2 separate regions of the Homo sapiens genome follow, and region 2 is linked to region 1. Evidence: fine-mapped expression QTL. Tissue or cell type: whole blood. Region 1 holds a variant in brackets; the other region holds the start of a gene. All regions are shown on one strand. Distances are from middle to middle.

Region 1 (8,099 bases):
GACCAAGTGCCCGTCAAGACTGGGCTGGACTTGACTCATCTATGGCCCCATGTGGATGACCTGCACAGCGTGTCACAGGCAGGGGACACTGCGGGGCCCAGAGACACCGGAGAATCTGCAGCCACCACAGGGCAGGGATGTGGGGCAGCCCAGTCCTCCAGCTCCTGCTGATGGTTCCTGGGGACCTGCCCTGCAGCCACCTGAGGCTGGGGCCACTCTGGGGGCTGGAACACCCCAGGGAGAGCTCAGGGGCCCACACTGCTGGGGAGAGGGGAGGGGGCTAACTGCGCCTGCTCTGGAGGCAGGCCCATGGGAACCCCTGAGCTGGGTGGGCCTAAGCCCTGAGGTGGAGGCCAGGACAGGGCACCTGGAGGAGGTTGAGTGCCAGGATGATGCCTTGGGGGAAGAGCGGGCAGATGACCCCTCATGTCACAGAAAGGGCAAGCTGTCCTGCAAGTGACACACAGGCTCCCTGCCTGGCACCTGCAGCACACAAGGTGGGGCAGCTGCCCTACCCAAGCACCTACTGTGTGCGGCATGGTGCTGGGGTCGGCAGCTGTGGCCACCACACCACAGGCCCACACCTGGCCCTGACTCAGGGAGCCAATCTGCCCCAGCCATGGAAGCTACGTGTGCCCACGTTGACCCAGCCTGGTCTCTACAGCCCAGAGCCAGGCTCTGCCCTCGGACAGGCCCCCCACCAGGTTTCGTGCTGCCCCTGCCACAAGGGGCCAGGCCTCCCGGGCTGCCATTACCTCTTGCTTGTCGTGGTGACACTTCTTGCAGCCGGCAGGCGAGGAGTAGTGGTGGAAGATGGAGCCCGACAGGTTGTCGATGATGGTCAGCTCCCCCTCCAAGGAGTCCTTGATGATTAAAGAGACGCTGTCCAGCCACAGGTTCTCCTAGGCGGACGGGGACGGGGTGGGGACAGGCGGGATTATCAGCCGGGTCCCGGGGCTGTGGGGTGGGCAGGACACAGCTGCCCTCCCGGTTGGTTCTCTGCGCCCATGGCCTGGGACCGACCCCCTCATCACAGGGTCACCCCTTCTATGGAGCTGAGCAGGGTGGGGCCCAGAAAGACAGAGGTCTCTGTGCAAGGCCTCCCTGGCCCTGCTGCCCATCTGGCCCTGCGGTGCCCCCCCTCTGGCGACCCTCACACCTCTCCAGCCCCTGCCCACCTGGGCAGGCGAGTAGCAGCGCCGGCACAAGCCGCCCTCGGTGTCGCCCCCGCCGCCCGCCCCTCCCGGCCCTCGGCCAGGGGCGCCCGGGGAGCCGGTAGGCAGCCTCGGGCCAGGGCCCAGGCCATGGGCCATCTCCAGCTCGAGCTCGGCATCCATCTCGGCGTCCTCCTGCGCCTCCTTGTTGCTGTCGTCCAGGTGCTTCATGAGCACAGCCACCACCACGTTGATGAGCACGAACTGCGCGGTGAGCACGAAGCTCACGAAGTACAGCGGCGACACAAACTGCAGGCTGCTCAGGCAGCTGCGCTCGTCGTGGGTGCAGTCCCGCAGCGTGTCCTGCGTGGCAGGGAGGGCGGTGAGGATGAGGACGGAGACATCCCAGAGGCTGCTGGAGGCAGAGGCCAGCCCAGGGCCACGCTCGGAGGCAGCAAGACCGAGATTCAACCCCCGAGATGGCCCCGGGCTGCCCTGCCCCACTCTGCCTTGTTGCGGCATCTGCCTGCCTCAGCTTCAGCTAAGTCCCCGCATGGACAGACGGATGGCCCAGCGCCCTCTCCTCCTCTCTTGCTCCTGCCCATGTCACCCTCCCCACAGCTGGCCTGCTTCCCCGGGACAGTCAGGCCTGAGAAGGGGCATCTGGGGCTTCCTTCAGGGGCCCCTGGGGAGTAGGGTGCATTCGTGACCAGGGCCTCCCTGTCCTTCCTTTCTGGTTTTTCAGCTCAACCCCCAACCACAAAGCCCAAGAAGACTCCATCACCTTCCCGCCCTGGGCTGAGGAGATTGGCCGCCTCTCCCAGCACCCTGGCTTCCTGCCCCCTTGCTGGGGGCACTGGGGGCTCTGCAGGGTGGGGGTGGGAGGCAGAACAGGCCTACCTCTGCCCTCTCCACCCTAGGGCCCCGGAACCGAGGCCTTACCCCTGTCCTCTGGGAGCCCCTCCCTGCCCTTCCCAGCCCAGCCCGGGTTGCAGCCCAGGCCAGGGAGCCTCTGCCGGGTGACCTGGTCAGCGTGGAAATCACTAGGGGGCCTGGCCCTGGCCTTCAGGCCTGCCTGGGCCCCAGGTCCCCTCCGGAACTGGGTGGAGTTGTCTACCCTAGAATCTGAGCCCTGATCCCAGGCAACACTGGGGGATGAGGCAGTGTAGACAGGGGGCCTGTTCTGGCTCAGCTCTCCCCACTGTGCTGGTCCTGGGCAGGCCCCTCCACTCCTCCGTGCCCTGCATGCCCCTCCCATGTGTGGTGGGGCCCTGGGTGGGCAGAGCCCTGAGCAGCAGGACCAGCATCCTCACTGTCCCAGCACCTGGCTGATTTCTCCACCCCAGCCCGCCCAGGAGTACCTTCATGATCCCGTTCCAGTTGTCACCCGTGGAGACCTGGAAGAGTGTGAGGAAGGCCATGCCGAAGTTCTCGAAGGTGGCATGCCGGCTCATGCCCTCGCACGGGTTCTCGTCGTTGCAGACTGGAAGCGGGGAGGAGGTCAGCCCTGCCCGATGGCGGAGTGCCTGCGGGGCTCACCCTGACCTGGTGCCTCCCGCCTCGCCTCAGAACCCTCATCACACCCTAGGAGGGGCCTGCAGACTGTGCCCAGCCCACAGATAAACTGAGGCTCGGGGAGATGGCACATGAGCTGGGGCTCAGGTTTGGGTGAGTCTGGCTCTGCTCCCCGCCGAAGAATGGGTTTCTGAGAAAGAGGGTGAAATGGGGTGAGGGCCAGCCCCTCGGGGAACCCTGCTTTCTGGAGCCATCCCGGTGCAGGGCGGAGCTCAGCGAGCGCTCTGTTGCTCTTTCCCCTGCCCTGGCCTCTCCACTTGCTGGGGTGGCGCTGGCTCAGGACAGGCACCAACACCGGGGTAGGGAGGGCAGTTTTCCTGGGAGACCAGACAGCTGAGGGCCCTGCTGTAGGCATCTCCCCAATACAAAGACCCTGATGTGACGGGCTCAGGGGTCTCAGGCCTCCCCCGCCCCCCCAGTTCCTCCTGCAGCCCTGCTGCACCCCCACCACGGGCCTGCTCTGGGAGTCACTCACCCAGCTTCCCAAAGAGCTCCACCCCGAGAGCAGCATAGATGAAGAAGAGCAGCATGAAGAGGAGGCCCAGGTTGCCCACCTGCGGGAGGACAGGTGAGGCCGGGTGGGGCTGGGGAGCGGGTGGGGGCGCACCAGGCCTGGGAAGGGTGGAGGCTGGGGCAGTGGGGTTGGGCAGCCTGTGGGTCAGAGCAGCTGTAACATTCCCCCAGGCTGTGTGTCCACGTCTGCCACCCCTACAGGACCTGGAGGGCAGGCTGGGTCCAGCACAGGGCTCAGAATAACAAGAAAACACTTGTGCCACCTTTACCACAAGCTGTCCCATTTCCAGCACTTAAGGTTCATGAGCTCACTTCCTCCTCACAATAATCCACGAACTATCTTTTATCCCCATTCTTCAGAAGAAGAAGGAGACAGACTGAGAGGTGACATCACTTGTCCAGAGTCGCACAGCTAGTAACTGGTAGGACAAGGGTCCAAACCCAGCAGGCTGGCCCCAGGGTCCATGCACACAATCTATGCTACACGCCTTGAGTGGCTACCAAGGTTGAATGGATGGATGAACGAAGGGAAGGGAGAAGGCAGGAGGTCTCAGCTCTAACACTAGCTCCTCTACGAAACCACCGAAATGCACTTATCCCTGTCACTGTCATCTGCTGGTCTGGGAAATCTTCAAGAGCAGGAACACAGCTGCATGAGGTCAGATTTGCCTCCTTGGGCCAGCATGAGGCCTGGCCATAGAGAGGAGGGAAGGCAGGAATCACGCAGGCCCGTGGGCCCCAGAAGCCTCTGCAAACCCAGCCACCCCCATCCCACAGCTCCTGTGGGAGAAAGCGTCCCAGATTCCAAACCTAGTTCAAATCTATCCATGCATTGGAGACCACCTTTAACTCATGCTATGG[A/G]TAAGATAAGGCTAAAACACATTCTTGCCCTAGAAATGAAATATCTCTTAGAACCCTCAGAAGGCCTTAGAACCCTCAGAAAACGTTCACGTTAACTGCTGAAAAGTAAACCCCATTAATCACCACTCCTCGAGTTTCTCCGCTCCACTCCAGAGCAGGGTTTCCTGGCCAGCCGTTCTACACTGCTAGTGTCTGACTAATTAAATGATGTTCCCTTCATTAATAAAACAAGCACTTACTGAGCACCCGTGAGGCCAACTGTAAGGCCCTGACCGCTGAGAAGGATCTGGCGTGGTCGCGGCTCTAGGAATTCAGCTTTGTGCCCTGCACAGGCCGGCGGGGGCAGCATCTCTTAACCAGGATTGCCGTCAGCTTTTCTATCTGTCCCCTCCCTGCTGTCAGCATCTCAGAGCCGGCAGGGTTGCAGCAGCCTCCTCACCAGCTTCCCTGCCTCCAGCCTCTCCCTCCAATCCATTCTCCTCCCAGCCAGCAGAGCCACCTTCTCAAAGGCAGCTCGGCTGCAGCCTTCCTTGTCTAGAACCCTCCTGTGGCACCTGCTGCCTGCAAGATAAAGCCCAATTCTGCTGCCCTAGCACTGAAGGTGTGCTGTGACCTGGCCCCCAGGGACCCCCCTCCCAGCCTGATCTTCCAATCCCACACACTCCAGCCACACAGAAAACAGCCCCACAGTGCCTTGGCATATTATTTTCCCTCTGCAGGGAGGACCCTCTATCTTTGCCTGTAAAATGCCTCCTCCCCACCCCTCAAAGCCCAGTCCATGGGTCACCTCCCCTGAGAAGCCTTCTCTGATGCCTCCTCCCTCTTCTTGGGGCAGAGACTGGTGGGAAGAGGCTGAAGTTTCATTTTCCTAGCACTTTACGTAGAATCGAGGAAATGGCCAATGTCCATACAACAACATGAGCAACAGCAAATGGATTTTGAGGGGTAAGCACCATTTCACGGCCAGTGGCACTTGGCACGTGCTTCTTCTCAAGTGCTAATGCACTTGTAATGACTACCTTGGGTCTCCTGCTGGAGGCTGGGATGTCCTGAACATCTCCATGTGCCGTGCCCCATGCCAGCTCCACACTGGATTTGGGAGTCATGATAGAACCGCCCAGGGGTCAGAGCATGGGGAAGGGGAGAGGGAGCAAGGAGGCCAGGGAGGCCGAGCCACACACTCACCATCCCCACCCCTAGCAGCCTCTTAAATGGCACTTCTCATGAACCAGACCTCTTAAGTGCTTCATAAGCTTTAACCATCTGACACCTCACCGCCGCCCTTTGAAATAAGCGCTTGAGGGAGCGATGCTTCACCACCATCCTCATTTCACAGGCAAGGAAACTGAGGCACGAAAAGCTAAGTCGCATGCCCAGGGCCCAGGCTTTGCTCTCAAGCATTATGGCCCAAGCCGGGGCTCCAATCTACTTCCTGTCGGCACAGCCTGCAGCCCAGCATCACCCCCATCTCCCATGGGACAAAGTCCCCTGAAGGGGTTTAGTGTTAGGAAAAACCACGTCTCTGAATGAATGCCCTTGCTTTCCATCCAGACCATGCCACTTTCCCTTTATACCAAGGCTGCTGGGAAGCTCACACCAAATTCAGGAACAGAACTCACCCATGTCCTTAGCCCCGGTCCCCGAAAGAATTAGCTCTGCTTCCACCTTCCCTGGGCCATTAATCTTGTATCCTCATTTTTAATGTGCAGTATCTGTGCCTTGTATTTTAAGGCACCTAAACTTCCTGATGACTCGTTGAGTCATAATGAATAAATGTGCCTGAGGCTCAGCTGAGAGCAGAGGCCACCCTGAGGGGAGGGGGAAGGGGAGCCTCAAGCAGTCAAGACAGCGGGGGAGGGAAGGACTGGGATTGCAGAATTCTCGGGAGGATGAAAAAGATGCCCTCTGTGGCCCTGATCACATCTCCCCTTTCACTAACCGCAGGGTGCGGGTAGAGCAACTTCCCTAACTTCTCAGATCCCCACCTGGGTCAGGGTCTCATGCTGCCCCTCCTGGAATGCCATCTCGGAACTTCTCCATCCACACTGCCACCTCCTTCTGCCAAGCCACCCTTGGAAGTCAAGCTCAAAGGTCCCCTTTCCTAGGCTGCCTTCCCTGATCTCCCCAGGGAGTGTCTGGCACTCTTCTCTCTCTCTGGAGCATGCTGGAGGTCCCTCCCCACATCTCCCTGAAGTATCCATCTCCCTCCACCAGCCTGGGGGCAACCAAGGGCACAATGTGGACCCTCAGTGCGTGCACAGGGCTGGACACAGAGTGGCACTGGCAACCACATGGTGAAACTGGAAGAAAGAGGCATAAAGGGACCCTTCCTGCCTCTCAGCCCCTGGCTCAAAATGCATCCCCAGAGACAGCATCTGCCCTGGCTCTGGCAGATGTGAGGAGAAGGGAAATCAGGGCCTTCATGCCCCAGGGCCCAGCCTGACACCAATGACCCCTAGGAGGGCTGCCAGAAAGAGTGGCTCTTACCTGGGGCAAAGCTTGCACCACCGTGTCCAGCAGGGCCCGCATTCCTGTGGCCATCTTCAACAGCTTCAGCACTGCGGGCGAGACCCAGCCCTGCCCACTCAGCCCCAGGCCGGTGGGGACGTGTGTGTGCACGCATGTGTGCACGTGTGTAAACTTGGGAGAAGAGAACATGAAGGCACGTGCAAGCAGAGTCTGGCTCTCAGATACCACATTACAAGAATGTGGGTGCAGCCACAGGGTGAGTGGGGCATGCACAAAAACATGTGGACACAAGGCGTGGGTGTCACTGTAGAAAAGCCCCCGAGGACGGGGCATACTCATGGAAACTGAGGTCTATGAAGTGTGTGAATGGGTGGGCCATGAACTGTCACGGGCACAAAGGACCAGCGTGAGTGGCCACATCTCTTCTCTTCCCCTCTCGATAAAGAGGACTCTGGCATCACTCGCTGAGTTTCTGGCAGGCAGAAGAGCAAGAGGCACCTGGGCTCGCCCTGAGGCAGGAGGCTTTTAAAAGAAGTGTACGAACTACCTTGAGGGGAGGGAGAAGGATCTCTGAAGACCGTGCGTCCCAGTCACTGTGTTTGAGAAATGCCAGCGAGGAACTGGAGGTGTTTCACATCTTCCCAGTTGGACTGGGTTCCTTGCATCACACTCTGAGACTGGACCCCATGGGTCATGGCGTCATAAGGAAGTGGGAGTGTGTGTCCATGTGTGCTATGCAAAGTTGCCTGTGTGTTGGGGGAGGTGTGTGCACACAGAGGGTGCATGCGTGTGTGTTGGCTGTGTGCCTCCCAGCTCCTTCTCACCCCTGTTCAGCAAGGAGCCCACCATGCCTGCAAACTCCTGCCCCCACCCCTCCCCACCCCACTCCTGTGTGTTCTCATCAGGCAATGAGGAGTCTCATCCCGCCCCTGCTTGTCCCCGTTCCCTGTCCCACCCCTTGCCCCTCACCTCGGGCAATGCGCAGAACCCTCATGATGCGGATGATGGTGGGATTGATGGGCAGGGCCGCATTGATCTCGATCTCCTCCAGGGTGATGCCCATGACTGACAGTAGCACAATGGCCAGGTCCAGCTGGTTCCATCTGCTCAGCCGTGCATGGGAGGGCAGGAGTGGGCATGAGGAGGATCCCTCTGGTTCAGACACACCTTAGTGGGGGGAGCCTCCCAGGTCCTGACCCTTCTATTGTGGCCCATTAGGCTGTGTGGCTGCCCTCCCTTACTAGCCCCTCCTAACGCCACTGGGTCCAGGCCCCTCTCTGCTCCCCATAGCCATCACTCCGTCAAGCAAGGGGCTGATCAGGCTAAATAAATATCTCTGGCCTCCTGCAGGAGAGGAGGCATGGACTATGACTTCCAAGTCTAATCTTGAGCTGGCTGCTCTCTCTGTCTGGCCTTAGGCTAGTCCATCAACTTCTTTGAGCCTCACTATTCCCTTCAAAAAGGAGTATTAGCATGAGGCAGACCCTGCTCTGCCCATAGGGTAGAGACAACGTACCAAAGATGAGC
Region 2 (8,099 bases), 110 kb after region 1:
GAGTGAAGTTTCCAGCCAGGAAAGAATCCTAGAGGCTTCAGCCCCTGCCCCACCCACACACGCACCCCATCCCAAGCCCCTAAAGCCCACCCTGAGCTCCCCACGACTGAGTCTCTGCTCCAGGGGACAGCCCTATGGACAGCCACGTCTCCTGGGTCTCTGTTTGTGGAACCCTCCTTGGCCCCTCTCCCACCTGACCCAATTCAGCTATGAACTCTCAGGCCAGCAGCGGCTGCAGCCACCGGGTCCAGAATCCTCCAACTCGTAGGCACACAGCATCACAGCCACCAAGTCTTAGGCTCACACACTCTTTGAAACACAGAATTTTGCAGCCTTTGAATGACAGAAGCTTAGAATTTCAGTGTCGCTGAGCCTTAAATCTTAACTTTGAACCCTTAGACTGTCGCAGAAGTTTTCAGTCTGAGTGTCCCAGAGCTGACACCTTTAAAGTTGCTGTGCTTTTGAGTCGCCACATCTCTGGCCTGAAGAGAGTCCGTATCCCACCAGTTAAGGCCGAGACCTGAACCACCTCTATCCCAGTCCAGCCTCAGCAGCCCTGGCCATGGGGATGCCGGGGGAACCCTCGCTCTGCGCAGCTCCCGGGACTGAAAAGTCCCTCCTGATGGAGGGGGGCTGCTTTCTGCCCCACCCCTTGGACCCAGGGCTCTCTCCAAGACAGACAAGAGGCAGGCCCAGCTCCTCCCGAAACCAGTACTCCTCTCCCTCCTGGGCCAGCCCCACTGTTGTCTCCAACCCCAGGCCACAACCCACATGACCTGAGGATGGAGGTGAGAGGGGTGGTGAAAACCAAGGAGACAGTGGCCCCAAGGACTCTGTTTGCCCAACAGGCCAGAAATATGGAAAACTGGGTGGGTTCCCAGGGGCTGGCTCACTCAGTGGTCAGGCGTCAGGGTGCCTGAGATCAAGGCAGCCCCCATGGCGTGTGTGGCTAACACCCTGGGCTCCCAGGGCTGGAAGGGGTGATTCGTCTGCCGTCTCCTTTTTAGGTGGAGGTGCTGAGGCTCAGAGAGAGGAGACTGCCCAGGGTCACACACATGGCAGACAGGACTTGACCACCCCCATCTAGGGGCCTCTCCGTGACACGTGGGCAGCACCCCAGCCAGCCCAGCCAGAGCCCATCAGAGACGCAGCTGGGTCAGACTCCCAGGCCAAGTCCTCTGAGCCATGCCCCTGCCTCCAGCCCAGAGCAGTATTGCCCATCCAGACCCCCTAAGGTTCAAAGAAGCAAAGTGACTTACTCATGGTCACACAGCACCCAAGTGACAGAGCCAGAATCAACTCTTGTCATCTCACCCAGGAAAGGCCCCTGAGACATTGTGAAATTGTCCCCCTGGTCCTCCTACCAGCCTTTCTCTTCCTAAAGGCCCAAAATTCCTGCGGCCGCCCCCTTCTCAGGCCTGGCACTCCTCTGTTCACATGCCACAAGCCCCTGAGGTTTCCCCAGTGCTTTGTATTAAAACTAGCCACGTAGGCTGGGCACAGTGGCTCACACCTGTAATCCCAGCACTTTGGGAGGCCGAGGCAGGCGGTTCACGAGTCAGGAGTTCGAGACCAGCCTGACCAACATGGTGAAACCCCATCTCTACTAAAAATACAAAAATTAGTAGGGCATGGCGGTGGGTGCCTGTAGTCCCAGCTACTCGGGAGGCTGAGGCAGGAGAATTGCTTGAACCTGGGAGGCGGAGGTTGCAGTGAGCCGAGATCGCGCCACTGCACTCCAGCCTGGGTGACAGAGCGAGACTCCATCTAAAAAAAAAAACTAGCCAAATGGGTGGTCCCTGCTTCCCTCTTCCCCGGGCACTCCCTGGGACAGACACCAGCTCTGCCTCTTTGTCCTCAGTGTCCCAGGGCAGATGTCAGTGAGTGCTGGGTGAACTAATTACCGAGCAGACCCTCTCACCAAGCCTGAGACGCTGTGAGCCGTCCCCCAGAAGGAGCAGGGAGGCTCTTAGCCCCCACCCAGCAAGGAACACCCAGTTCTGCATCCCACTCCAGCAGAGACCCGCTGGTTTCCAAAAGTTAGGGGGATCCAGGGCCCACGATCACCTCAGCCCCCTACAGAAGGGAAGCCTGGCAGTCCTGCAGCCAGTCTCAACATCCCAGCCTGCATCTGGCATCCCTGGATTCCAGGGCAGGACTCAGGCCTGCACCTGACCCACCAGCTCCCCGCACCCTGCCCTGTGTGGCCACAAGCACCAGAACCTCGAGCCACATATGGGCATTTTTTGGTGGGACCCTCAAACCACAAGGCCACCATGGCTTGGGTCCCCAAGCCTCCTCCTCAGTGGTCCCCAGCCCCCACTTCACCCTGCAAGCCAGTGCCACACAGTCCTTCCAGAGCACAGATCTCTCCAGACCCTGCTTCAAATCCTGCCCTTGGAGCACAGTCCCATCCCTCATGCAGCCTCCAAGGCCCTGCAGGGCTCCCGCCACACCTGCAGCCTCACCTCACTCCTCTCTGCCCCTCAGGGCTCCAACACTGCCTGCAACTCCTCCCTTCTCCAGGCTTCGCTCCTGCCATGCCCTCCTCCTGCCTCCCACTACCCTCTCTACCCAACCAACGCTCTTCCTTATTGAGGAGTCAGCTCTGGCATTGCCCATGTACACCCAGCAAACACTGCCAGAGCACCCACGATGTGCCAAGCACTGTGCCAGGTGCTAGGGTCCCCATCCCAGTCATCTGACAGTACCCCAGGGGAGGCAAATGTTAGATTCAGAATTCCACAGTTAGATGTGACAGTTAGATATGAAGCAGAGGAGGAATCCCAGAGGGCTTCCCTGAGGAGGTGATGCTTAAGCTGGGATTTTAAGGATGTAGCAAAGGATTTGGCCAGGTCCAGGGGGAAGGGAAAAGCTTTTCAGACAGGGGGAAGAGCCAGTGAGAGGACCCTGAGGCTCAGAAGAGCACAGGGGGGAAGCCAAGTGGTGGGAAGTGAGGCTGGGTGGAACACACAGGCCCTGATGGGTTGGATTAGGACTTTGCTCTGCACCTCCAGGACCATAGCAAATCATGACAGTCTTAAGCAGGGGGAACATGAGCCCACTGGAGGCAGCAAGTGGAGGCAGGAGGCCTGGGAAGAGGCTGCTCGGAGGCACAGTAAGGAGAATGAGTCCTGCCCTGTGTGTTGGGATCGGCTGCCCCGCTGCCCACGCCCACAGTTCCTGATCACGGCTCCCATCCTCTGTATGGTCACGGCCCATCAGGTGGCTCCAGAGTCTGACTGATCTGCATTCCCAGCCCAGCACAGGTCTGGGGCCCACACTCAAGGACTTTCTGAGCCAGCCAGCCACTGGACTGACCCCACAGCCACCAGCAACTTCCAGAACCTTCACATCAGCAGAACACCAGGTCCTCATCCATTTGAGGTCTCCCCAGACCCACCCTCTGAGCTCGCTCACCACCACCAAGGCCCAGTGGCCTCACCGCAGACCTCAGGTCTCCCAGCCGGAGCAAGGTGTGAGCAGCAGGACTCAATCCAGCCCCCCACCCTTCAGCCCCTGCAGGGCCCCGATCAGCCGAGGCTGCGGAGGATATGGGTTGCACACCATCTTGATGCACCAGTTCCGGGGGCTGGTGGTCTGTCGCAGGCAGAAGAAGGCAATAGGCGCCAGGTCTGGGTGTGGGACATGAGGATCAGCTCCATCCAGAGGCTCCTCCAGGCCTGGCGGGGAGGATGGGGGGCTCCGGGGTCCGGGCTGCTCCGTGGTGACTCCTGGCTCAGCGGCTGGGGCTGCTGCAGATGAGGAGGGCGGGGAGGCGCTCTCAGCCATGTCCACACTGAGCTGGGAGCCCTGGGGAAGACAGAGAGGGTGGCACGTGGTGGGGACAGGCCTGGTACATGCTCCCCAACCTGCCTCTCCACCAATAAGTGGACGGATGCAGCTCTGACAGCCCCACCTGAGCCCCACAGGCCCCTCACCCTCACTCTTGCATGAGGATTACGAAACAGCTGAGGGCCCAGCTGCACCCAACTTGGAATCTGCTTCCAAGCTGGGTGATCATGGGGCAAGTCTGCTCACCCTGGCTGAGCCTCAGTTTTGGCAAACGAAGATAGTGGGGAGAATAAAGCCTTCTTAGAATATAATTGTGATATTAACTCTTTTTTTTTTGTCTATTGGCAATTTTCTGTATTTGAAATCTTTCATTATTTAAGAGAAAAAATGTTTAAGTAATTATAGACAGAAAAGAAAGACGGAAGGGAGGGAGAGAGGGAGAGAGGGAGGGAGGGAGGGAAGAAAGGAAGGAAGGAAGGAAGGAAGGAAGGAAGGAAGGAAGGGATCTTAACTTTTTTACAAGACTAGAGCTATGTATTTATTGCACCATCAAAGGTAAAGAAAACTTGCAAGAAAAAAGAGGTGATTGTAAAGACAGACATTATTGCCAGGACAATGCAGGTTACAAAGGCAATGTTGGGGTGCTGCAGAATCAGAGACTGGGGGAACGCTGGCAAGCCAGGAGGGAATCACAGTTGGCTTCCCTGAGGAAGTAACCCCTGAGCTGAGACCTACAGCTGAGCCCTTGACCCAGGGACCTCCCAGCCACTGCCTTACAAGGCTGAGAACCCAGGAATCTTAGAGTCTAACCTCCTTGCCTTACAGATGAAGAAACCGAGGCCCAGAGAAGGGACAGGACAGACATGTAGCAGAGTAACAGCAGAAATAGAATTCCAGTCAAAGGCCAGGCACGTGACTCACACCTGTAATCCCAGCACTTTGGGAGGCCAAGGTGGGTGGATCACCTGAGGTCAGGAGTTTGAGGCCAACCTGGCCAACATAGTGAGACCTCATCTGTACTAAAAATACAAAAATTAGCTGGGTGTGGTGGCACACGCTGTAATCTCAGCTACTCGGGAAGCTGAGGCATGAGAATCACTTGAACCCGGGAGGTGGAGGTTGCAGTGAGCCAAGATCACACCACTGCATTCCAGCCTGGGCAACAGAGCAAGACTCTGTCACCAAAAAAAAAAAAAAAAAAGAATTCCGGTCAGAGCCCGCTTCCTGGGTCTGTGGCTCAGGCAGCTGCACAGGGCCCCGTGCTCAGAAGGGCCCTGAACTTGCTTTAGAATTCTTCTGTCACCAACATGAAATTCTTAATTGCTTATCAAGAGGTCCCACATTTTCATTTTGTTCTAGGTGATGCAAATCATCTTGCTGGCTCCGACTCCAACTCAAAGCACTTCTACTCCCTGGCCTTGTCTGATGCTCACAACAACCTCAGGAGGACTATTATGCCCATTTGGCAGGTGAAGAAACTGAGGCCAAGAGAACAAAGCGGGTTGTCAAGGCTATGCACCCAGCCAAGTGAAGCACTAGGTGGTGTTGAGAGGCCAGAATCCCAGCACCAGACCCCCAGGCGGGCTTCATGACAACTGATGGTGCCCTCGCTGGCCGAGAGCCTCCGCAACCAGTCAATGGCAAGATGGGACGGACAGCCACTCCCAGGGCCTGCCCCTCACCACCTCACCCCAAAGGGTACTAGTCCCTAAAACTTTGTCCACTGGGGTCCCTGGGATCCTAGAACCCCTACAGGGCCAGTCTGAGCCGTGGGATTGAGAGATGGGGTCCACGTCCCTGGTGCCCACCCAGCTGCTGCTGGGCTGTCGACCAAGCCACCCGGAGCTGATGCATTTGGACATTTCTCTGGCTCCCGGGGGCAACGGGCAGGGGTTGGCACCTCCTGCCACTTCCCCTGGCTGGTCAGGGAGGCGGAGTTTTCTCCTGAGCTCAGGGCTTTGCTCTTGATTCCAGAAAAACAGCCACGGGCCTTACATAAGCTCCCAGGCACCTTGGCCTGCCACGTGTCAACCTCCTGGGCTGAAACGCACCCTCCCTAGGGTGGTTCCAGCTCTGCCCACCACCGTGCCAGCCTCGGAGCCCACCACTCCCTCCCCTGGCCATTTGCTCTGGCCAGATTGGACCTCCTCAGGTCCTAGGCCCTGCTCCCGCTCTTCCCTCTCACTGGGGCACCTTCTCCTTCCGCCCAGGCCCTGTTCTCCCAGGCCCTACTGATTCATTCATTTGCCCAATGAGCACCTACTATGTGTGGGCACTGTGTGGGCTTCGGGCTATGCTGGGGCACGAGCCAGACTCAGCACCAGCCCCCATTCAGCCCACACTTCCGCAGAGGAGAGAGACACACCGATCAATTAATTTCTCTCTTTCTGCTTTTCCACAACTCTTATCACCATCAAACACGGTGCATAATTTATGTCTTTATATCTCCATGATTTGGTGTCTGTCTCCCCAGCCTAAGAGAAGCCTGTAAGGGAGGTGTATCCCCTCACTGCTGTATCCCCAGCACCTGGAATGGTGCCTGGAGCATACTAGGTGCTCAATCGATATTTGTTGACTCAGTGAATAAAAAGTGCTGGGAAGTAAATAAACAAGGGGAAAGGTGGGAGTGGAGACAATCATCTTGCCCTCTCTAAAGGAAGAGATGTTTAAGTGAAAACCAAGACGCGGGAGGCCGCAGCCCTGACTGATCTGCTGGAAGAGCACAGGAGGAAGAGCACGTGCGAAGGCCAGGAGAATGGGGCCCGCTCGGTGCATTTAAGGAACACAAGCGAGGCCGAGCCTCGGGCAGGGAGGCGGATGAAACCAAAGAGTTCAGCAGGGCCCTGGGGGAGAACACAGAGGAGCGTGGGTTTTATCCCAAGTTCAGTAGAAGCCACAGGTGGGTTTTAGGCAGGGGAGTGGTGTGCTCTGGTCTGTTTCTAAGCCATCTCTCCAGGGGCTGAAGGGAGAGTGGATGAAGGGGAAGGGGTGGAGCAGGAAGGGCTGGGAGGAGCTGGGCTGGCCTGCCCTTGGCTGCTGGTGAAGACAGGGAGAAGGCGGTGGATTGAGATTTATTCTCGAGGTAAAGCACCTGGTCTCGCAGCAACTGCAGTGGCCCACCTGCAACCCTCGCCCCAGCATTACCGAAGTCCTTCCTGAAACCACACAGGTGGAAAGAGCTCCCCCGGCCTCCGGGACTGCACAAAACTACCCACTTCCTGCCTCTGGGCTACGTCGCTTGCACTGACTTGCTTGTTGCCTCTCTTGGCTTGTTTAATGCCGCCACACTGTGCTGCCCTCTGTGCTCACACCTCTCCCCTCACTGTGGTGCTCCCAGAAACCACACCCCTAAGGCCACCACCCTCAACTCTCTCCCCAGTGTCCACCCAGCCTCCACCCTCTGACCTGCTCCCAGCGGCCACCCAGCCTCCACCCTCTGACCTGTTCCAGTGACCACCCAGCCTCCACCCTCGGACATGCTTCCAGTGACCACCCAGCCTCCACCCTCTGACCTGTTCCCAGTGACCACCCAGACCATCTCCCTCTGACCTGTTCCTTAGCAGCTTCCCAGGCCACTACTCCCTGACCCACTCCCCACTCCCAAAGCCCCCAAGTCCAGTCCAGATATCTCTCTTTCCTGTGTCTGTGGCCTAGCTCCTATCGCAGGTGCCTGTGTGCCCATGGCTGGAAGCCCTGAGGGGACTGGCAGCTGGGCCTCCCTGGGCTCCAATCTGTCCGCAGTCACAGAGACTAAAGGACTTGCTTTAGGTGACAGCATTGGTGGATTCAAACTCAGGTCCATCAGGTGCCAGAGTCTGAGCTGCCTCCACATCCCTGAGTCCCCTTCTTCTAGGTGCTCCCAGGACCTAACCCTGATGCTCCTTCCCCTGAGTAGCCCACCAAGCAGCAGTGTGGCAATTAGGCTGGCCTCCAAGAGCAGGGATAGGAGCAGAAGCCTGCTGTGTCTGGAACACAGACCCCCATTCCTGACTCCGTCAGCTTCTTAGAGCCTCAGTTTTTCTCTGTAAAGCTCAGCCCTCCTCCAGCCTGCTTCAGCAGGCTCTTGTTAAGAAGCAACATGATGGGCTGCCAGGTGTGGTATCTCACGCCTGTAATCCCAGCATTTTGGGAGGCCGATGCGAGTAGATCATCTGAGGTCAGGAGTTGGAGACCAGCCTGGCCAACATGGTGAAACCCCATCTCTACTAAAAACACAAAAATAAGCCAGGCATGATGGCGCACACCTGTAGTCACAGCTACTCAGGAGGCTGAGACAGAAGAATCCCTTGAACCCAGGAGGCAGA

Evidence for each region. PIP is the estimated chance that this variant, and not a neighbour inherited with it, causes the effect.
Region 2: CACNA1I starts here. The variant in region 1 is fine-mapped to the expression of CACNA1I in whole blood (TOPMed, PIP 0.96).

Annotation. Positions count from the first base shown.
Region 1 is chr22:39,672,525-39,680,623 of GRCh38, reverse strand. CACNA1I (calcium voltage-gated channel subunit alpha1 I) reads right to left here. Exons shown (of 37, transcript NM_021096.4): 28 at 7,542-7,675; 29 at 6,591-6,661; 30 at 3,205-3,283; 31 at 2,516-2,637; 32 at 1,179-1,517; 33 at 756-902. Among named protein-coding and RNA genes, the nearest start is that of CACNA1I, 110 kb to the right of the region's middle. The variant A/G (reference allele first, on the strand shown) is at 4,104.
Region 2 is chr22:39,566,446-39,574,544 of GRCh38, reverse strand. CACNA1I (calcium voltage-gated channel subunit alpha1 I) reads right to left here and starts at 3,792. Exons shown (of 37, transcript NM_021096.4): 1 at 3,557-3,792. The coding sequence starts at 3,792.